Homo sapiens: one gene and its partner. The protein of the gene in region 2 purifies or fractionates together with the protein of the main gene of each other region. This does not show direct contact. Each region holds a gene or a part of one and is shown on either strand. Other genes may lie near its edges.

Evidence for each region.
Region 1: the proteins of ZNF490 (region 2) and PRDM15 purify together in Homo sapiens (affinity purification with mass spectrometry; 2 studies listed by BioGRID and IntAct, with this or other methods). This does not show direct contact.

Annotation. Positions count from the first base shown.
Region 1 is NC_000021.9:41,874,447-41,885,882, forward strand, and holds the start of PRDM15 (PR domain zinc finger protein 15), read right to left. Parts: upstream 4,899-11,436; 5' UTR 4,824-4,898; intron 4,695-4,823; exon of another isoform or gene 4,550-4,694; intron 4,415-4,549; exon of another isoform or gene 4,311-4,414; coding exon of another isoform or gene 4,249-4,310; intron 4,127-4,248; exon of another isoform or gene 4,105-4,126; intron 4,078-4,104; exon of another isoform or gene 3,091-4,077; coding exon of another isoform or gene 3,088-3,090; intron 2,737-3,087; exon of another isoform or gene 253-2,736; intron 1-252. UniProt on the Homo sapiens protein: Sequence-specific DNA-binding transcriptional regulator. Plays a role as a molecular node in a transcriptional network regulating embryonic development and cell fate decision.
Region 2 is NC_000019.10:12,577,798-12,589,219, forward strand, and holds part of ZNF490 (zinc finger protein 490), read right to left. Parts: intron 5,760-11,422; coding exon 5,633-5,759; intron 5,114-5,632; coding exon 5,053-5,113; intron 3,928-5,052; coding exon 2,688-3,927; 3' UTR 1-2,687. UniProt on the Homo sapiens protein: May be involved in transcriptional regulation.

The DNA of each region.
Region 1 (11,436 bases), on a different chromosome or scaffold from region 2:
ACATTTATGTTTTTGGTCACAATAAAAGACAAACCTACTATAACTAAGCAGCATGCATATATATATATATATATATATATTTTTTTTTTTTTTTGAAACTTACAAAAGGCCAGAGGCCAGAGGGTTACGAGACACCTGAAACACCCCTTCTCAAAAGCAGACTCTGGTCCAGTGAGTGGACAGTTAAAAGTCCAACCGCATTTGCATCCTGCAGGCCCCACCCACATCAAGAATTAAGGACCCTGAACTCACAGTGAGTTTGCCGTGAGCCGCATCACTTAGTCAAGGTTTACTGATGACGCCTGCAGTAGGTCAGCACTCAGAGCTGTCAGGTGCAGACCTGGACCACGATGAACAAGGAGATCGGTCAAACGGAGCCAGTAACAGATGGTGCATCTCAGGCAAATAAAAGCATCCTCTCTGAGAAAGCCGAGCTCCAGTTTTATGTAAGGGTATGGAAGCAAGGAAGAGCTGAGCCGTCTGTGCTCATCAGACCCCACGGGCTTGGAGGACTCCAGGACAGGCTGACACCTGTCATCCCAGCACTTTGGGGGGCCAAGACGGGAGGATCGCTGATCTTGGCTTCTCCTGCTCTGAGTAGGATTCATGTAGGACGAGTGGCTTCAGCAGGGTCCCTGCCCAATCCCAGGTCCTCTCCACCCGAAGCCATCCTTACTGCCTCCTCTGGAAATCCCTTCTGCCCTGGAGGGTCCCTCTCACTGCGTGCTCCCTCCTAAGCCCCTTTGCTGTCTGCACCTCCCCTCCAGAGCCTCCACAGGGGGTACCCCAAGCTGGCTACCTAGACCTCCGTCCCTCTACATGCAGCACTTACCTGCCACCCCCAACTCCCAAGCCGGCATCCTGGCGGCCCCTCGCCCTGCCAGGCCCCGGACGGCAGCTCCACCTGATGCCTGGAACCAGGAGCAGCCAGGCTCTTTGAGTTTTGCCAGTATCCCCATGAAAATATTTCCTAAAATGCCACTCCCTGCATCTCAGCTGACAGTATAAACTGTTCATCCCTGTTTTAAACAGCTGCAAGGGACATCATTTCCAGCATACTGTAAATACTGAGTTAAAATAAAACTGCCATGTCACTCTTGTAAATATATCTATTAGAATCTAGGCACGGTGACGTGACAGCCATGGCCATCTATTTACAACGCACACGAACAAGCTCTTCTTAAGGCCAGAAAGTATACACTTCTTCCTCTAGGAACTCCTATTTCTGTTACTACAAAATGTAAACCCAACGTTATATATTCATGCTTGAAATCACTCTATTGATTCACCCTACTGTAACTTTTTGCAACACAAACATGCATATAAATTGAATTCGTCTTGATTTCCTACAACCATAGGGCTGTGCTAACGTCTCCCGAATCATCACCGCAGTACACTCGTGTGTAGCTTCCTGACAGGATTCTGAGAAATGCATTGCTATGGGATTTTGTAGTTGTGCAAACATGATAGAGTGTACATACACAACCCTAGATGGTATAGCCTACTACACACCTAGGCTATACGGCCCAGCCTACGACTCCTAGGCTGCAAACCTGTACAGCACTTAACTAACGGAATACTGTAGGTACCTGTAACACAATAGTAAGTATTTGCTTATCTAAACATAGAAAAGGTAACGTAAAAAATGCGGTCCTATCATCTTACAGGACCAGCATGGTATATGCGGTCCACCATTGAACCATATCTCCTTTTCACAGTGTGACTACAATTGGAACACCACTGATCAAAACAGAAATAGTCTCCACTTCGATAAATCATCATCTGATATAAAAGCTGTGTTTAATAGAAGAGAAAGAGCTTTTTTCCCCTAATCAGTTCACATAGCATGGACAAATGCTCGCCTCTGTCCCTATTCCTCTTTCTAGAAATGCGAGCACAGAGAAGCTGGTTCCAGAAATAAGGAGACGGGAGCAGAAGGGGCTTGGTCACAGCAGAGTCCCCCAATGCCACATCCTCTTGAGTTCTGAGCCTGAATTCATCAAAGATCAACTTGTCATCAACGATCACCATGAACACCGCTGGTGTAGAGGCTCCCGCAGCTGCTGCAGACCTGTGGCCCACGGGGGAGCCACTCCCCAACACCCTTACATCTGCTGGGACCCCGCAGTTTCCACACCCCAGGGCCATGACTGCAAGAGGAGGGACCTTTCCTTAGGAGGAGCCTTTTGAGGAGCGGACGTGGCCCCGGGGCAGGGTCTTCTCCCACTCTGAGGGAGAGTTTGAAGATGTCTGCTCTACAGGGCCCCTGAATGCCTCAGGTCACCTGCACCTCAGTAAATAGTAGCTCCAGTCACCCACCATGCATTTCCAACCAAACCAGCAGCAGGCCTGCCTGGCTCTGGAACTAGGCTCTGTCCTGCCCCATCTCCCCTTCTGCCTCCGAGTTCTGTGGAGTGGAATCATGCAGGGCCTGGATTCCAGTGATGCCAGCTCCATTCCCCACACACAGCCAAAAGATGCAGACTCTGCCCCGCCACTGCTCAAAGCCCCTCAGTGGCATCCACAAGGCAGTCAGAAGAAAATCTCTGCCTGGTGCATGGCCCCTGCTGCCCCACCTCCATGGCCACACTGGCCTGTCCCATCCTGGGCTCATCCCACCCCAGGGCCTTTGCATTTGCCACCATCTGCCTGGTGGGGGCAGGCACCACCGCACCCACCTCCACCAGAGGCTCCCTCACAGCACTGGTCTCCACTGTGGCCCCTCCTCAGACAGCCCCTTCTAGTCCCAGCCCCCAAGTGCCCCATCCCCTGCCCGCCACCTGCCTGCCCTCCTTCCTTTCTTCATGCTCTTCCCATCGTCTTACCTGAGAGTTTTATGATTTTCTGTCTACACCACCTCCACTCCCCTGCCCAGAACATTAGGTCCACCAGGTGCAGCCCTCTCTCCATTCACTACAGCGTGGGGGCACATAACAGGTGTTCAGTAAACATTGGTGGAAAGAATGCATGAATGGCCGAATGAATGAATATCTGCCCACACCAGCACTGTGAGGGGAGCTGAGCAGGGCCATCCACACTTTGCAAATGAGGAACGGAGTCTGAAAAATCATTTAAGTCACCGCTCACCATCCCAACCTCTTGAGCGCACGGGTGGAAGACACAGTTGCCTTAAATCTCCCTTCAATCTGCAAAATGGCAGGACTGTTCTTTCCTGGCCTTCTGTACAGATAATGACATCGAAAATGATATGAGAGCCACATCCTAAGTGAAAAGAGTTCTTTGTCAAATATAATTATTCTAAGACAAGCTAGCAGCCTTCCAACTACAGTTGATTTTTAAATTTATTTATTTGTCTTCTGGAGAAATAACCGTCCCGCCTGCTTCCAAAATGGAACATTTAGCTTGTTCTTTGCTGGCTACTTTGCGGCAAAAAGTATGAATCACAGATAGAAGAAAAACAAACTATAAAAAAAATGGTGTTTTTGCTCTTGAAAGTCTAAATTATAGAGCTACTATTTCTTAATCGTTCACCGTGAGGCAGCGATGTCAGGAAATCTGGGGAAGGAGTGAAGCAGTGAAAACGTGGAACACGTGAAAATGTCCGAGCTTGAAACAAAATACGGTAGTGGTGTGTGCACCGGGGTGGGATCACCACCCTTATCGAGTGTTGACATCATTGCATTCTCCAAGGAGAACTGTCACTGCTACCTTTTAAGGTACATCACAAAGCCAGTGGCTCCTTCACATGTCACCACCCTTCAGGAACCAAGCTAGGTTCTCCAAATTCACTTGAGTCTGGCTTAAGCCAATGTGGTTTTTTTAAAACGAGTGTTGGTAGCTTTAAATACACACACAGGTCCACGTGTCTCTGATCACACACTTGTTTCTACCGTTTTAAACTCCCTTTGGGGACTTGGGGGTGAGGGGCAATTTCTGAGCATTTGTGGGGGAAAAAACCATCCACTACATTAGGGGGTTAAGAAAGGTAAATGGGTGATAACTCTAACCACCAGATAGGAGTGTTTATTTCCATGAGTTTTCATTTCTATTTTCTCAAGGCTAACCCCTGCGTGAACACCTCCCCTCTAGCAGGACGCTGCGCGTGGCCCCCGTCCCCACCTGTCCACGCGAGGCGGGCCTCACCTGAGCGGCCGGGCACGCCCCGTCCCCGAACGGCCACCCACCCCGGGTAGGCACGCGTCACCTGTCCATCCACCTCGCTACCTTCTCTCTGCCACCAAAAGGCTTACGAAAATAAGGCGCAGGGGGTCTGGGAGACCCCATCACCAGGACTCAGCTTCTCTAAACGCGGGGTTGGGGGTCCAGGGACCCCCCCGTGCGACCCGCATGGGCTGTACCCGAGGGCGGGGGATAACGACATCCCCTGGGGCCTCGGCGACGACGCCGCCCGGCGGCGGGGGCCGCGGGGCCGCGGGCCGGGGCGGCGAAGACCCTGCGCCGCGCCCACGGGCGAGCGCGGCCCGGCAGCCCCGCGGCCCCGCGCTGGGCCTGGCCGCGGGCGGGCGGGGGGCGCGAGGCAGGGGACGGGGGCGCGGAGCCCGGCCAGGAGCGCCCGCGGCGGCGGGACCCGGCGGGCGGGCGGCGCGCAGGGCGATCCCGGAGCGGCTCCGGGAAATCCAGCCGGGTTTTGACTCCGATCGCCAACGGTGCCCGCAGCCGGCGAATGTAACAAAGAACAGTCGGCATGGCGGCTGGACCGGGGCGGCGCGCGGCTGCCGGGCGCGGGGGGCGGGGGGCAGCGGGCCCAGGGCGCGCCGGGGCTCGCGGGGGCAGCGGGTGCGGCCCGGGGCCGGCGGGGCGCACGCCGGGGCGGGCGGCGGGCGCAGGGCCCGGAGCTTTACCTGCCTTTGGAATGTGCAGAGCGGGATCGGATCCGGACTCCGGGTTGCGATCCGCTCCGGAAACTGCGCAGCACCGGAAGCCGGGGGGCGGCGGCGGGGCATGGCGGGACTTGTAGTCCGCGGGCGGGCGCGGGGGGCGCAGGCGAGACCCTGGCGCGGCCGGGGGTCCTGCGGGTGGGACTGCGGGGCGCGGGCGGCGTGGACGGGGCAGCGGGCGCGCGCGGGGCGGGTCTGGCCGGAGGGAATTCCGCGCGCGGCCCCCCTCCCACGTGGCACGGCCCTGCCGCCCACGCGCGCGGGCAGCTCCCTCTCCACCTCTCCTCGGACGCGTTTCTTGCGGAGTTGGGGAGTGGTGGCGGTGGGTGGGTCGAGTTTTTCTCTAGAACAGGCCTGGGACTTGCCCCCACTCACGGTGACCTCTGGATTTGGCCGGCGGGGCCCTGGGACACGAGCTCTGTGCCCGCGAGGGGAGTCTGGCCTGGCGGGCTCCGCCACGCTACCGGTGAGCACCGGGCCAGCCGCGGACCTGGCTCTCCATTCTTCCCCGGGGGCCTGTGTGGCCTCTCTTGACCCCCTCCACCAAGTGTGTGTGCCATCACAAAACGTGAGACGGAGAAGGGACAGACTTTTCACCTTAGTCCTGGCCGCCCATATTCAGAGAGGCCGACTGTCTTGTTCATTGCTGCCTGGCAAAAACCTACATTCATAAAGAGAAGTGATGAACCGGGGAAAATGATTTTAAATTGATGCCACAAAAGGGCTCGTTTCCCTCATGTACGTGAAACTCTTGTGAACCAATAAAAATATATATGTATATAGAAAAATGAGCAAAGTGTGTGGATGGACAGTTCGTAGGAAATTCAATGGTTCTTAAGCATATGAGAAGCTATTCAACTACGCTGCAATAAGAGAAAAAAAGTCGCAGTGGGATCATTTTTATTAGATTAGCAAAGATTTTTTAAAACGTTTAATACAACCTGGGCAACATAGCCAGACCTTGTCTCTAAAAAACTTAGCTGGGCTCGGTGGCACGTGCCCGTAGTCTCAGCTACTCAGGAGGCTGAGGCAGGAGGGTCACTTGAGTCCCACAGTTTGAGGCTGCAGTGAGCTGTGATCGTGTCACTGCACTCCAGCCTGGGCAACAGAGTGAGACCCTGTCTCAAACAAAAACAAACAAAAAAAAGTTTTAATAGCATAATTTTGAAGAAACTAGAGAAACAAGCTCCTTTACGGGTAGGAGAATAAATTAGCGTAGTTTCCATTCAGATATTTGTGGATATCCATAAAAATTCTAAATGCACATAGCCTTTGACCCACATGCAGGAATGGTGCCAGAGACGGACTCGCTTGTATGAATGGCATATGTGATCATCACATTTGCTTACATACTACGTGCCATCCCATGGGAAGTGTTGGATGCACCTGGGCACATCCATAGGCTGCAACGCCGGGCAGCCGGAGACAGATTAGGCAAGTGTTGATCTGTGAAGGCTGGTTTCTCTGCCTGGCCCAGCATTCTACAGTGGCTTCCATGTTGCACTATAGTAGGCCATCCCATGGCCCCCCAGACCTTTCTGGAGCATCCCCGGCGTCCACTGTCTCCCTGCTTGTCCCCACCTGCGACTTCATGCCTCCCTCCAGCCTCCTGTCCCTGAAGCCTGTTCCCAAGGCCTTCTGTACTCTATCTTCAAACACTTCCCAGGTTTTCCACAACCTTCTCTGTATTCAGGTCTCCGCCCAACCCCACTCCCACCACCACCACTACAGCTAATGGACATTCCCTCTATACACGCACCTCCAGTGACATCACTCACAGTTCCAAAATGGCCAGATGACTGGTTCTGTGGGCCTCAGGACATGAAACAGTCCTCGGCATATGTGAATAAAAGGTTGTTTACACTAAAAAAGTGACAGGTCCACAGCAAGTGCGAATAACTGAAAGTAAACCAAAGACTTCAACCTCCCCCAGGCCATTTCTCCTATTACTACATACAGCCCACGGCTGGAATTCACTTACACAATAATCGTCATATCTCGTCTTCAAGAGGATTGTCAATGTGTCCACTATAATCCTTCAGAACAATCTAGAAATAATACCTCTTAAGGCAGATTCATCTCCAAAATGTTAAAAGAAAAAAAAAAGTTTTATCTTAAAGTGTCAAATTTTCATTATTAACAATTAATGCAATATACAACTTTGAAAAATGGGCAGAAAGAAAGAAAAAACAACTATAAAGGTTGTTATTGAGGAAAATGGAAAATCTGAACGTGAACAGTGATACCGGATAATAGTATTGGATCAATGTTAAATTTCCCAAGGGTGATCATTGTATTGAAAGTATGGTAGCCCGTGCCATTCATTGTTCTCACCAAATTGTTCTGAAGGATTTAGGGTGAAATATTGTGATATCTGCAAACGTGACAGAGACCGAGAGAGAGCAGATGTGGCAAAACTGGTGAATCTAGGTGAAGGCTATATGGGTTGTTCCGTAGGTTTGAAATTAAAAATAAATGAGTTGAAAATTTAAAAAACAACAGACAAGAGCTTCCATGGCTATCAGTGAATTTCCTTGTGAACACTTAATTCTTCCTGAAAGATACTAGATGGGATTAAGATGTAATTAATCACTGAGGGCTATGCCCGCAGCCCTGTGGACCGCCCGCCCGCCCGCCTTAGATCAGTACTTTTCCAATTAGCACGTCTCCTGGGCTCTGGTTTTGTTATAATTCAAATACAAACCTACTGCTGTGCAAAGCATGATAGACATCCTCAACCACCTCTCCAGCCACCTCCAGCTTTTAAGAAAAAAAAAATTGGCTAATTTTTCTCATAAAGAGGGAAGTCTGATCATCAGCGAATAAGTTAATTCCTACTAAATATGAAACATTGACTCTCACTTCATGTTATTCTCACCCAAAACAGGCAGCATTAAAGTTCAAAAAAGACCATATATCCTTGAAGAGTAACTGCTGAACTTATTCACTGGCAGTGGGCCTTATAGCACAGTGAATGACCAGGTTAGAGACATGCTTCACATTTGCTTACATACCCACAAATTAGGGGATGATGTATCTGGACTGTCTAGTAGAACTTTATCATAGGAGTATGTAGATTTTCCATGGAGTGCTGTTGTGTGACTTGAATTTTAGTCTTGGCCCTGCCTCTGACTTCCTCAGTGATTTATCCTGGTTCCAGGGAAGGAGACCAGCCTTTTCCTCATGCTAGTCTTTGGTGGTTTTTAAACATTTGTTTAACTCAACAAATGAAATGTATCATATGCCTGACACCGCTACACCAGTTTTTTTACATATAAAATTGTTAAAAATTTTTGGCCAGGTGCGGTGGCTCACGCCTGTAATTCCAGCACTTTGAGAGGCCAAGGCTGGTGGATCATTTGAGGTCAGGAGTTTGAGACCAGCCTGGCCAATGTGGTGAAACCCCATCTCTACTAAAAATACAAAAATTAGCCGGGCATGGTGGCGGGTGCCTGTAATCCCAGCTACTCGGGAGGCTGAGGCAGGAGAATCACTTGAACCTGGGAGGCGGAGGTTGCAGTGAGTCGAGATCACGCCATTACACTCCAGCCTGGATGACGAGAGCGAGACTCCTTCTCAAAACAAAACAAAACAAAAAAACATATAGGACCATAGTCCTTAATCTCTCCAATCGACACAGGCAGAGCCAGAGACTCACGGCTGTGAGCAGAGGTTCTCCAGGCAAACAGCCAGTGCTCAAATTCTGGTCTAGCCAGCTGTCAGCTTGGGCAAGTTACTTAACCTCTCTGTGCCTCAGTTTCTTAACCTGTAAAGCTGAAATAGATCATGCCCCATGGAGTTGTTTCAGAGAGTATATGAGTCACTACATATAAAACTATTTGAAAAATTCTTGGCACATATTGAGTGTGCAATTATTATTAGCTATTGTTGTGATCTCAAGTCTTTCTCTAACTTTATTTATTTTATTGAGATGGAGTCTCACTCTGTTGTCCAGGCTGGAGTGTGTGATCTCAGCTCACTGCAACCTCCGCCTCCCAGGTTCAAGCGATTCTCCTGCCTCAGCCTCCCAAGTAGCTGGGATTACAGGCATGCGCCACCAGGCCCAGCTAATTTTTGTATTTTTGGTAGAGACAGGGTTTCACCGTGTTGGCCAGACTGGTCTTGAACTCCTGACCTCAGGTGTTCCGCCCGCCTTGGCCTCCCAAAGTGCTGGAATTACAGGCGTGAGCCACCGCGCCCGGCCTATTATATAAAAGCTATGCTTGCTACCGAGCTAGACTATAAATTAATACATCCCCTGGGCTTAGTCCAGTGCTTCACCTGGTACAGCAATGATGATCACCAGCTGATAACCCTTCTATTAAGGTGCCCAACGTACCTGCACGTCCAACTTTATAAATATCGATGACATTAATATAGACCTATAAATACATAGGCAACTAGTTTTGAATGCCTGTTACAGCAGGGCGTGACTCGCAGTTTCCACTGTGGACAGTCACAGTGTGGAGCTGGGGAAGGCCAGTGGAGGAAAGCTGTTTCTAGGTCATGATTGGGAAGGAGGGCCTGGCCTTGGCAGCTTTCTCTCTAGGGGGATCACTGTGCTATGTCAGCCATCCTGGTGTCTAGCCCCCTTTGGTGAGTGATCTGCATTTTAAAAATAAACTTTATTGACATATACACACATCACCCTGTCTTTGTAGGGGTGCTAAGGTCAAAACAGCATGTGGTCATCCCCTCCAGTGTCCTGCTCAGTCCCCAGCACCAGGTCCTGGGCGATGGAGGGTGAGGTGGGTGGAAGCAAAGCTGCTGTCTGTGCTCACGTAAGGGTCATCAGCTGACCTTTGTCCTTGCTCTGCTAGGTGGGCAGTGACTGTACGAAGCCCCGGGGGATACAGGAAATGAGAGCAATGCAGGACAGTGAAGCCTGAGAGCCGGAGGCCTGGACCGTGCCGCTGCAAGCACGCCAATTCCGCAGCCTGCAGAGAAGCTCCTTCGTGGGGAAGGCAGGGCTTGAGTTGGGTTAGACCATTCGAAGAGTGAGTGTGAACTGCTGGGCACGAGGATGCACACTCCAGAATGACCGAGGGTGGTTGAGTTGGATTAATTTGGGCAGTGGAGACGCATTGGCAAACAGTGCTCATCTGGAGGTGATCAGCTTAGGAAAGTTGGTAAATTAGGACAAGCTTGGCCTCCAGCAACTCAATCCAGCCTCCTCCTGGAGCATCAGCACAAAGTGGGTCCCTCTGGCCACACAGAGGAAGCAACAGTTCAATCACTGGGTCCTGAACCACTTCTAACTCCAAACAAGAGGCACTGCCATCACCACCTTGTGGTGCCCAGGAAATGGAGCAGAAAACCTGGAACCCAGCTGGGAAGCATCGGGCTCCCTCTAAGGGTCTACACGGTGTCTAGCGAGCGGGCGGGACAGCTGAGAGGAGGGGTGGGCAGTGTGGGGACAGGAGGCTGGGCCTGTCCAGTAGCTTTCTCCAGGACACCAGCTCTCCACGTGCTCTGCTGTCTGGGCACCGCAGGGGGAATGAAGACTGAGGGAGACCACGGGAACTGATGACTAGAAAGAAGGCACGATGCCTGCATGGGGCCCGCAGGACACGTCTGTGACCCGACTCGACCGCCTCCCTCCCAGAACCACCGTGAGCCCCAGGCAAGTGCCGACGCTGTTCCACCTGTGGCTGAGCCAGGTACCTGTCCCCTCTGCATGCACCCGGGCCACCCACCGGGGTGGGGAATGGACAGTGAAGTCCAAGGATGACCTGATGAAAGGGGCGCTCAGAGAAGACCCTGGGACTTCCAGGACAGAACAGGACTCGGGAAAAACAACTCAGTGTAGTGTTCTGTGTGCACATTTATTTCTTTCAAAGATTGTTTGTGTTCCAGCCACATCTTCTCCAAAGGAACCCACCCAAGCCCGTGTGCAGGCTTGCTGCAGGGCTGTCTTCGGCGTTTAAAGTGCTACTGAGGAATACAATCATTGTCACGTAAGTTCATCACCGCACTCCAGCGTCAGGCCAAACCTTTCCGTGGACCTGGAAAACCTGCCACTTTCTTCTCTTTTTACAATGCAGTTTCGACATAACATTGGTAGAGTAAACAACAAACCACAAGCCTAAATGATGAATGGTGCGCTGCTGCCCAGCTGCTAACTGAGAGAACGAGGCAGTGTATTGTGTTTCGAATGCAAACGGTCATGGACCCAAGTTAACCTGAGTTTGCTCTGCAGGATTCCGCGGGGGCCTTGCCCTGTGCAGGCTGCTTTGGTCTTCGTGTCTAGGCCGGTTTGGGGCAGTGGGGAGAGGGCCTGGCAGCAGGGTTTACGCCAGCCCCGAGGTCTGTTTTCCGTCAGACAGAGATACGTGTCCTGCCTTCCACCATCCACCAATTTGTACTCTGAAGTTTCCAGATCAAGAGCCGTGAGATTACTACCCAGGAAACACCTGCCTTCGGTGGCCAGCAGTGTAAATTAATCTTTCCCTCTCTGCTCAAAGCAACTTTGCAACTCTCGTCTATAGAGGTGGCCAGTAAAACCCAAGCAAAAATCTAAACGGGCACCAGGTGGCCACTGAGTGGCGACTGGTCGAGTAGCAGTTGGTCATAAGGG
Region 2 (11,422 bases):
GACTGTTGTTACGAGGGTGGATGGTGACCTGGTTTCCCTCAATGCTGCCACCTCCCTTCTAAAACACACTGACTTGCTAAGAAAAGGGGGGACTGACTCCAACAAAGGACAGACCCGACCCCTATCGTGCCTATGCAATTCAGAAAACGGAGAATTCGGAGGCTCCAGCAAGCAGTTTATTGGGAGTTGAGTTCACCTTGCCTTGTGATGTGAAGCAAGGTAGTTCCATGGCTTGTGAACCCTGACACCAGCACCTCCCATACACAACAGAGCTGGAGCGCTGCAGGGTGGGTCCTTTTCCAAGAAGAGCTAAGTGCTAGTCTTAGCGGGAGGCTAGGAAACCAGTCCTGGAGCAGGATGCATGTGACATGCACTGACGTGAGAAGGCCGGAGCATCATCAGTGCATATGCCGCTGAATATCTCAGGGTAGAATGTGCCAGAAAACAGGGAAAGCAAGTTAGGGGAGGTAAGAATTCTGAGTGTCCTACAGCTAAGACATGGCAGAGTGTGTCTGTGACTCCACTAGCAGTTTTGAGATTATTCTGACTGTGGTGGTTGGTGCAGGGCTGGTAACCGCAGGAGAGTGGATGCTGTGTGGTCAAGGGGTGTGTGTCCCATGATACAGGCTCTGCTTCTTCAGTCTCTCACCTCAGAGCCACCTGCGGTTGCCACAGAGAAATTCAGATGTGAATGTTTAAACAAGTGTCCAAAGTGTAGGTTTGAGATGGGAAATGGAGCTGGAGATGACCTCAAAACAGCCCTGGAATAATGCAATGCTGACAATGTCTGTGAATTAGGATGTGCATAGGCAGATCCCACTTGGGGAAAAACTGTAAGATGCGAACCTTTGTCTTAGAAGTACAGCATTCCCACAGTCTGACCCGAGGACACTGATGGAAACTTAAAAGGCAGATTCTGGGAGTCTTCTCACTTCTCTCCAGTCATGTGTGAGAGCTGAGGGCAGGCACTGCCCTAGAGGGTGTTTCCTAACTTCTGACTGGATGCCACAAAAGGCCTGCTGGGGCCCAAGTCCTTCTTCCCCATTCCTTTAATTCTTCCTACGAAGAATCTCGACAATGGTTGCAGATGTCATTGAAGATGTTCCCATATTGCTTACATTTAAGAAGGTGGCTCTCCAGTGTGGGTGGTTTCATGGTTTTAAAATGAACTGGAGGCCGGGCGCGGTGGCTCACGCCTATAATCCCAGCACTTTGGGAGGCCGAGGAGGGCGGATCACGAGGTCAGGAGATCAAGACTATCCTGGCTAACACGGTGAAACCCCGTCTCCACTAAAAATACAAAAAATGAGCCGGGCGTGGTGGCGGGCGCCTGTAGTCCCAGCTACTCGGGAGGCTGAGGCAGGAGAATGGCGTGAACCCAGGAGGCGGAGCTTGCAGTGAGCTGAGATCGCGCCACTGCACTCCAGCCTGGGCAAGGACTCCGTCTCAAAAAAAAAAAAAAAGAACTGGGGGCCGGGTGTGGTGGCTCACGCCTGTAATCCCAGCACTTTGGGAGGCCAAGGCAGGTGGATTACCTGAGGTCAGGAGTTCAAGACCAGCCTGGCCAACATGGTGAAACCCCGTCTCTACTAAAAATATAAAAATTAGTTGGGCGTGGTGGCATGTGCCTGTAATGCCAGCTACTAGGGGGCCTGAGGCAGGATTGCTTTGACCTGGGAGGCAGAGGTTGCGCCACTTTCACTCCAGCCTAGGCAACAGAGTAAGACTCCAGCTCAAAAAAAAAAAAAAAAAAAAGTAAAACGAACAATTTGGGAGGCCAAGGTGGGTGGATCATTTGAGGTCAAGAGTTTAAGATCAGCCTGGTCAACATGGTGAAACACTGTCTCTACTAAAAATATAAAAATTAGCTGGGCATGGTGGTGGGCACTTGTAATCCCAGCTACTTGGAAGGCTGAGGCAGAAGAATTGCTTGAACCCAGAGGTTACAGTGAGCCAGGATCACACCACTGCACTCCAGCCTGGGGCAACAGAGTGAGACACCATCTTGGGGTGCGGCGGGGAAAAAAAGGTTGGGTGCTGTGGCTCACACCTGTAATCCCAGCACTTTGGGAGGCCGAGGCAGGCAGATCACCTGAGGTCAGGAGTTTGAGACCAGCCTGACCAACATGGAGAAACCCCATCTCTACTAAAATTACAAAATTAGCCAGGCGTGGTGGCGCATGCCTGTAATCCCAGCTTCTTGGGAGGCTGCGGCAGGAGAATTGCTTGAATCCGGGAGGCGGAGGTTGCGGTGAGCCGCGATCGCACCACTGCACTCCAGCCTGGGCAACAAGAGCAAAATTACATCTCAACAAAAACAAAAACAAAAAACAAACCCCACAAAAGATGGGATGGATATAGAATTTTCTTTATAGTTTCTCTCCAGTATATATTCTCAGGTGTCTTTAAAAGATTACGTGAAGTGAAGGCTTTCCTACACTCCATACATTCGTAGCTTTTCTGTCCATGGAGTCCATTCACATATCTGCAATCCCGCAGGAGAGTGCAAGTTCCTCCCCCATTTGTTAAATATTTCATTGCCGCATGAGTCACGTCTTCAAAGGGAATTAGGACAACTGAAGGCTTAATCACACCGTTTACATTCCTTGAATTTCTCTCCAGCGTAAGTACTCTCATACATCCAAAAGGAACTAATACAACTGACAGCATTACCACACTTTACTTTCTTAGGGCTTCTGTCTACTATGAGTCCTTTCGTGCACGTGCAAAGACTTTGAGTAACTGAAGGCTTTACCACATTGTCTACACTGAAAGGGTCTTTCTCCAGTATGAATTCTTTTGTGTACTTTCAGGGAATTTAAACAAGTGAAAGCTTTGCCACACTGCTTACACTCACATGGTTTCACTCCAGTGTGACTTCTTTCGTGCCTTCGAAGGTGACTGAAGTAAATGAAGACCCGACCACACTGTTTGCATTCATAGGGTTTCTCTCTAGTATGGGTTCTTTCATGGATTCGAAAGTGAGTGGAATAAAGAAAGGCTTTACCACATTCTTTACATTCGTAAGTTTTCTCGCCAGTGTGAACTCTTTCGTGCAACTGAAGGTAACTTGAAGAATTGAAGGCTTTACCACATTGTTTACATTCATAGGGTTTTTCTCCAAAATGAGTTCTTTCGTGCACTTCACAGGAACTAGATGACTTGAAGGCTTCCCCACATTTCTTACATGTATAAGGTTGAACTCCGGTGTGGGTTTTCACGTGTTTTCGAAGGCTTGAGTGAGAAAAGAAGGCTCTCCCACATTCCCTACATACAAAAGGTTTCTCTCCAGTATGAGTTTTCTCATGACTCCGTAAGTACGTGGGACAACTGAAGGCTTTCCCACATTGCTTACATTCATAAGGTTTCTCTCCAGTGTGAGTCCTTTCGTGGGTTAGAAAAGGCTGGTAATATATAAAGGCTTTTCCACACTGTTTACATTTGTAGGGTTTCTCTCCAGTGTGATTTTTTTCATGGCGCCGAAGAGCAGTGAGATATCTGAATGCCTTCCCACATTCCTTACATTCATAGGGTGTCTCTCCAGTATGAATTCTTATATGGTTTCGAAAGGAAAAGAGAAATGCGAAGGCTTTGCCACATTCCTTACATTCATAGGGTTTCTCTCCAGTGTGAATTCTTTCATGGGTTCGAATACTGGAGCTGCGAGTGAAGGTTTTCCCACATTCTTTGCATTTATGTGGCTTCTCTCCATATTCGTGACACTCATTTGGTTTCTGTTCAGTGTGAGATCTCATGTGCCTATTAAGGGAGACCTGATGCATGAAGACTTCCCCACACACACTGCAGTCACATGGTTTTAATCCAGTAGGAGTTTCCAGGTTCGTATTAAGATCAGGAATCTGGCTAGTGCTTTTTCCACATGGACAATCTTCTTTATTTTCACAGAGTGCTTCAACCATAGGACTTCTGTAAAGAATGAGTACCGTATTATTAATAGTTTTGTATTAATGATCTTATATTTATTAGCAAGTACCAGAATTACATTTTAAATATTTTCACAGAAACTGTATGTTATCTGCCCTGTCTAAATTGTTTTGAAAGCTAATATACTCAATAGTCTAGAACAGGCCGTGACCATAGCTATTATCAAAATAGTTAAAAAAAAATTATTATTATTATTTTTGAGACGGAGTCTCTCTGTTGCCCAGGCTGGAGTGCAGTGGCGTGATCTCAGCTCACTGCAACCTCCGCCTCCTGGGTTCAAGTGATTCTCCTGCCTCAGCCTCCCAAGTAGCTGGGATTGCAGACATGCACCACCACGCCCCGCTAATTTTATATCTTTTTTAGTAGAGACGGGGTCTCAAACTCCTGACCTCAGGTGATCCGCTCGCCTCAGCCTCCCAAAGTGCTGGGATTACAGGCGTGAGCCACTGCGCCCAGCCAGGATTTTTAAATGCTGTTTCATAGTGATTTCTTCTCACACCCTGAACATCTATTGCTTTTTTTTTTTTCCTGTAGAGACAGGTTTTCACTATGTTGACCAGGCTGGTGTTGAACTCCTGGCCTCAAGCAATTCTCCAGCCTTCACCTACCAAAGGCTGGGATTAGAGGTATTCGCTACCTTACCCAGCCAATGACAGTTTCTGTTGTTTTTTTAGACGGAGTCTCGCTCTGTCACCAGGCTGCAGTGCAGTGGATCGATCTCAGCTCACTGCAACCTCCACCTCCCAGGTTCAAGCGATTCTCCTGCCTCAGCCTCCCGAGTAGCTGGGACTATAGGTGCACGCCACCACGCCCGGCTAATTTTTTGTATTTTTAGTAGAGACAGGGTTTCATCATGTTGGCCAGGATGGTCTCGATCTCCTGATCTCATGATCCACTGGCCTCAGCCTCCCAAAGTGCTGGGATTACAGACATGAGCCACCACGCCTGGCTGCCCATGACAGTTTCAATGAAACACCTTCAGTAAAAATTTTCTAAGAATGAATAAACCTGAAACTCTGCTTATTGTTTTGCTTGCTTGGCTTTTGAAATTTATGAAATACTAAGATTCTCTCAGGGGCTATATAATTATTTGTGAATGCAACTCACCTTAGATTTCTTCCCTGGTTTTTGTGTTCATCTTCAATATCCTGGTCTTTCCATTTTTCCCCTAAAATACAAGCCCAGAGAACTCACAATAAATTATTAGAAATTATAGAAAATTATAACACTCTAAGATCCATGATTAGCTATTGATTAGCTATGACACTGTCTGATCTACTTACTAAAGTATTCTCTTCCCACATTTTTTTTTTTTTTTTGAGACAGAGTCTCGCTGTTGCCCAGGCTGGAGTGCAATGGCGCGGTCTCAGCTCACTGCAACCTCGGCCTCCCGGGTTCAAGCAATTCTCCTGCCTCAGCCTCCTGAGTAGCCAGAATTACAGGCACCTGCCACCAGGCCTGGCTAATTTTTTATTTTTAGTAGAGACAGGGTTTCACCATGTTGGTCAGGCTGGTCTCAGACTCCTGACCTCTTAATCCGCCCGCCTCAGCCTCCCAAAGCACTGGGATTACAGGCGCGAGCCACCGTGCCTGGCCCCTTCCCCCATTTTAAACCTTGGAACTCAGTTGTTGTGCAAGAAACACCTGTTCCCTCCTTAATTAAGTAGAGAAATTATGTCACCCTTACCTATACAGGCCAGGTTCTTGAAGGTTGCCCGCATCACATCTCTGTAGATATTCCTCTGGCCAGGATCCAGCAAAGCCCACTCCTCCAGGGTGAAGTTCACAGCCACATCCTCAAGGGAGATGGAGTCCTAAAACATCCCCCATGTGTGTTTAGGAGGAGGAGAGAGATTCGCAGTAGTGAGGATCCATTCTCAGAATTCCTGAGAAATTCCATATAATCCTGTAGTCTCGGTTTAGTGGTATAACTTGGTTGTCAGAACTCTTGACTCTTTCCATACTCACTTCCTCATAAATTTAACACTATCGTGAACATACAAAAATTATTGCGCTCTCTCTCTCTCTCTCTCTCTCTCTCTCTCTCTCTATATATATATATATATATATTTTTTTTTTTTTTTTTTTGAAACATTCTTGCTCTGTCGCCCAGGCTGGAGTGCAGTGGCACAATGTCGGCTCACTGAAAGCTCCGCCTCCTGGGTTCACACCATTCTCCTGTCTCAGCCTCCCGAGTAGCTGGGACTACAGGCGCCCACCACCACACCCAGCTAATTTTTTGTATTTTTAGTAGAGACAGAGTTTCACCGTGTTAGCCAAGATGGTTTCCATCTCCTGACCTCGTGATCCGCCCGCCTCGGCCTCCCAGAGTGCTGGGATTACAGGCGTGAGCCACCGCACCCTGCCATTATTTCTATATTTTAACTGTGATCACTTGAAGCCTTATTGTTCTTTTTCTTTTTATTTTTTTTGAGATGGAGTCTTGCTCTGTTGCTCAGGCTGGAGTGCAATGGTGCGATCTTGGCTCACTGCAACCTCCTCCTCCCAGGTTCCAGTGATTATCCTGCCCCAACCTCCCAAGTAGCTGGGACTACAGGCGCGTGCCACCACGCCCAGCTAATTTTTTGTATTTTTAGTAGAGACGGGGTTTCACCATGTTAGCCAGGATGGTCTTGATCTCCTGACCTCGTGAATCGCCCCCCTCGGCCTCCCAAAGTGCTGGGATTACAGGCGTGAGCCACCGCGCCCGGCCACCTTATTGCTCTTTAAATACAGACCCAAGACCATCTTGGATATATGAGAGAAATGCTGTACAAATGAAACAAATTGTAAGATCATCAATTCCTCGTGAGAAAAACTCTTTCATTTTCTACCTTATTACATACTGTACCACTCAGCATTTCATGAAACTTGGGGTCAAATCTGGATGAGATTTTAATAAATGAATACACCCTTTAGACTATAAGCTGCACATCTCCCATTGAGGATGAAAAACTGTGTATTTTTCTTTTTCATAAACAACATGAGAGATCAGGAAGTCTGTGAAAAGCCAGAAGTCACTGGCCATGTTGCCCTGAAGGATCTCGGGCCATTAGAACCATGCAAATCCAGGTGGCTGAATGAAAATATTCTTCTGCATTAGTATTAATTTCAACGTGTTTGTGTAATATTTATCATAGGTTCAGTTTTTCCTTTCTGTCTCATTTCATGGGTCTAGGAGGTTATTGGAAAGAAAGCACAGCAACTTGGACCTCTATAAACCCCTGTACTCATGAAGGTTTATTACTCGCATGCTTGAGCTCTCAGGCAAAGCTGTGTAACTCTCAAGCACTTGTGAAGTGGCTTCGGAGAGCAAGAAAAGGAGCCTGGCTGGGGATTTTTACTGACATTAGGGAGTGGGCTAGTGTGAGTTCAAGCATACAGGTGGAGGCTGATGCGAATTGGCTCTGTCGCCAGCACCAAATGAGGGTGACCCAGGCTTTCTTCCTACCACGTCCATATGTGGGGTACACAGTGGAAACTGAGGAATGAGGTTTTAAAGCTGTGAGCAGTCAAAAGCCAGGCGGGGTGGCTCACGCCTATAATCCCAGCACTTTGGGAGGCAGAGGTGGGCAGATCATTTGAGGTCAGGAGTCCAAGCACTAAACCTCCAGCCCTTTTTCTCTCCCCCGACTTTGGGGGCTAGGGCTAGAGGAAGATCAAGACTGGGTGTCTTTCGGGACATCAATCCCCACCCTGAAGTTAGGTAGGCATTCTTTCCAGTAGTCATTTATTTACAACAAGAGAGGGTCCATTACCCTTATCACTCATGAAATTCCAAGAGATTTAGGAACTCTGTACTAGGAACCACACACAAAGACCAAACAAATGTCTTTCTTATCATAGCAAAGAACATCATGGCTCGGGGCACAGGCTCACCAGAAGACAGATGATTCATAGGATTATATCATGTTTCCACTCCAGCCACTGGTAACAGTGTGACATTAGAGTTTTGTTTTTATTTTGAGACCCAGTCTCGCTCTGTCACCCAGGCTGGAGTGCAGTGGTGCAATCTTGGCTCACTACAACCCCTGCCTCCAGCATTCAAGCAGTTCTCCTGCCTCAGCCAACAGAGTAGCTGGGATTACAGGCATACACAACCACACCCAGCTAATTTTTGTATTTTTAGTAGAGACAGGGTGTTTCTTCATGTTGGCCAGGATGGTGTCGAACTCCTACCTCAAGTAATTTGCCTGCCTTGGCCTCCCAAAATGCTAGGATTACAGGAATGAGTCACCACTCCTGGCCTGGGTTTTTGTTTTAAAACAGTAGAACAGGCCAGGTGTGGTGGCTCACGACTGTAATCCCAGCACTTTGGGAGGCGGGGGGCGGGCAGATCACTTGACATCAGGAGTTTGAGACCAGCCTGGCCAACATAGCAAAACCCCATCTCTACTAAAAATACAAAAATTTGCCGGGTGTGGTGGGCACCTGTAATCCCGGCTACTTGGGAGGCTGAGGGAAGAGAATCGCTTAAACCTGGGAGGCAGAGGTTGCAGTGAGCCAAGATCGTGCCCCTGCACTCCAGCCTGGGCGACAGAGCGAAACTCCACCTCAAAAAATAAAATAAAATAAAATAAAATAAAACAGTAGAATACAATGAAACAATATTCTATTTCTTTCTGCATGTTTCACAATTGAAGAAATCTCTAGAGAACCCCAAAAATGACAGAACACAGAAAACCAGGGACACCAAAGGCAATTTTATCTGACACCTACAGTTACTGAAAATAGTAAACACAGCCTAAAATCAACAGGATAAACCTAAACCCTCACATTTAAAGCCTGTTTACCTCAGTTCCTTTTCAACACCATGCCCAGATCTCAACAAAAATTACAAGATATATTAAAAGACTTAGACGGTTTGAAGAGAGAGTGCAGGCATCAGAACCAGACTGAGATATAAAAGAGATGCTGGAATTATCAGACCAGAAATTTATTTCTTTTCTTTTTTTTTTGAGACAGAGTCTTACTCTGTTGCCTAGGCTGGATTGCAGTGACACAATCTCAGCTCACTGATACTGTCATAGTGGATAAAAAAGAACACCTGGCCAGGCGTGGCTCACGCCTGTAATCCCAGAACTTTGGGAGGCCGAGGCAGGAGGACCTCTTGAGGTCAGGAGTTCAAGACCAGCCTGACCAACATGGAGAAACCCTGTCTCTACTAAAAATACAAAATTAGTCAGGTGCAGCGGCACATGCCTGTAATCCCAGCTACTCACGAGGCAGGAGAATCACTTGAACTTGGGAGGCAGAGGTTGCAGTGAGGCGAGATCGCGCCATGGCTCTCCAGCCTGGGCAACAGGAATAAAACTCCATCTCAAAAAAAAAAAAAGAAAAAGAAAAAAGAATACCTAATATATGTTGTCTGCAAGAAATTCGCTTTTTTTTTTTTTTTTACTTTGTTTTTTAGAGACAGGGCCATGCTCTGTCACCCAGGCTGGAGTGCAGTTGTGGGATGACAGATGACTATAACCTCAAACTCCTGGGCTCAAAGGACTCTCACCTCAGCCTCTGAGTAGCTGGAACTACAGGTGTGCACTACCATCCCTTGATAATTTTGTTTCTTTTTATAGAGATGGGGTCTCACTATGTTGCCCAGGCTTGTCTCAAACTCCTGGCCTCAAGCAATCATCCTGCCTCAGCCTCCCAAAATGCTGGGATTACAGGTGCGAGCCACCATACCTAGGCCAACAAATCCACTTTAAATATATCACAAAGATTGGGGGGAGGGGGGAGGGATAGCATTAGGAGATATACCTAATGTAAATGACCAGTTAATGGGTACAGCACACCAACATGGCACATGTACACATATGTAACAAACCTGCACGTTGTGCACATGTACCCTAGAACTTAAAGTATAATAATAAAAAGTAATAATAAATAAATATATCACAAAGATATATTAAAAATAAAGGAATAGAGAAAGATATACTATGCTAACACTAATTATTATTATTATTATTTTGAGACAAAGTCTCACTCTGCCACCCAGGCTGGAGTGCAGTGGCGCAATCTTGGCTCACTGCAACCTCCACCTCCCGGGTTCAAGCGATTCTCCTGCCTCAGTCTCCTGAGTAGCTGGGATTACAGGCGCACACTACCACACCCAGCTAATATTTTTTGTTTGTTTGTTTGTTTGAGTCGAAGTTTCGCTCTTGTTGCCCAGGCTGGAGTGCGATGGCGCAATCTCGGCTCGCTACAACCTCCGCCTCCCAGGTTCAAGCGATTCTTCTGCCTCAGCCTCCTGAGTAGCTGGAATTGCAGGCACCTGCCACCACGCCTGGCTAATTTTTGTATTTTTAGTAGAGACAGGGTTTCACCATGTTGGCCAGGCTGGTCTCAAACTCCTGACCTCAGGCGATCCGCCTGCCTCCCAAAGTGCTGAGATTACAAGCGTGAGACACCATGCCTGGTCAATTTTTATATTTTTAGTAGAGATAGGGTTTCACCACGTTGGTTAGGCTGGTGGCAAACTCCCGACCTCGTGATGTGCCCGCCTTGGCCTCCCTAAGTGCTGGGATTACAAGCATGAACCACCATGCCCGGCCAACACTAATTTTTTAAAAGCTGGCACAGCCTTATTAATTTCAGAAAAAGCTGACTTCATAGCATGAAATTATCAGTGATAGAAGGGCATTACATACTGACAAAGGGGTTAATTCACCAAGAAGACAAGGCAATCCTTACTGTGTATGTACATAACCACAGAGTGGCAAAATATATGAGGGGAAAACTAATACAACTGCAGGAAGAAATACATGAATTCACTGGTACAGCTGTATATTTCAATAACCCCCAGCATTAATTTAGAGATCCAGCAGGCAGAAATCAGGAAGGACATAATTAAATTGAACAGCACCATCAAAACAACTGGACTTAATTGAAATCCAGAATAATTCATTCAGTAACAGCAGAATATACATTCTTCTCAAGTTCACATGGAATATTCACCAAGATATCTCACATTCTGGTAAATAAAATACTTCCTAGCAAATTTAAAAGACTAGAGAATACAAAACATGTTCTCAGATCCAGAATTGATAACAGAAAGATAGCTTGAAAACCCACAAATATTTGGATATTAAATCCTGAACTTCTAAATAATGCATGGATGAGAAAAGTCTCAAGATATTAAAAATTATTTTGAATTAAATAAAAATAGAACTTATCAAAACACGTAGAATGCAGCAAAAGGAGTGCCTGGCTGAAATGTAGACGATTGAACACATATACCACCAAAGAATGATCTGTAATCAATAATCTCAGTGTCTAACTTAAAAAACTAATAACAGGCCAGGTATGGTGGCTCACGCCTGTAATCCCAGCGCTTTGGGAGGCTGAGTCAGGCAGATCACCTGAGGTCAGGACTTCGAGACCAGCCTGGCCAACATGGTGAAACCCCATCTCTACAAATACAAAATTACAAAAATACTCTCTCATGTACTCTAAAATACAAAAATTAGCCAGGCAT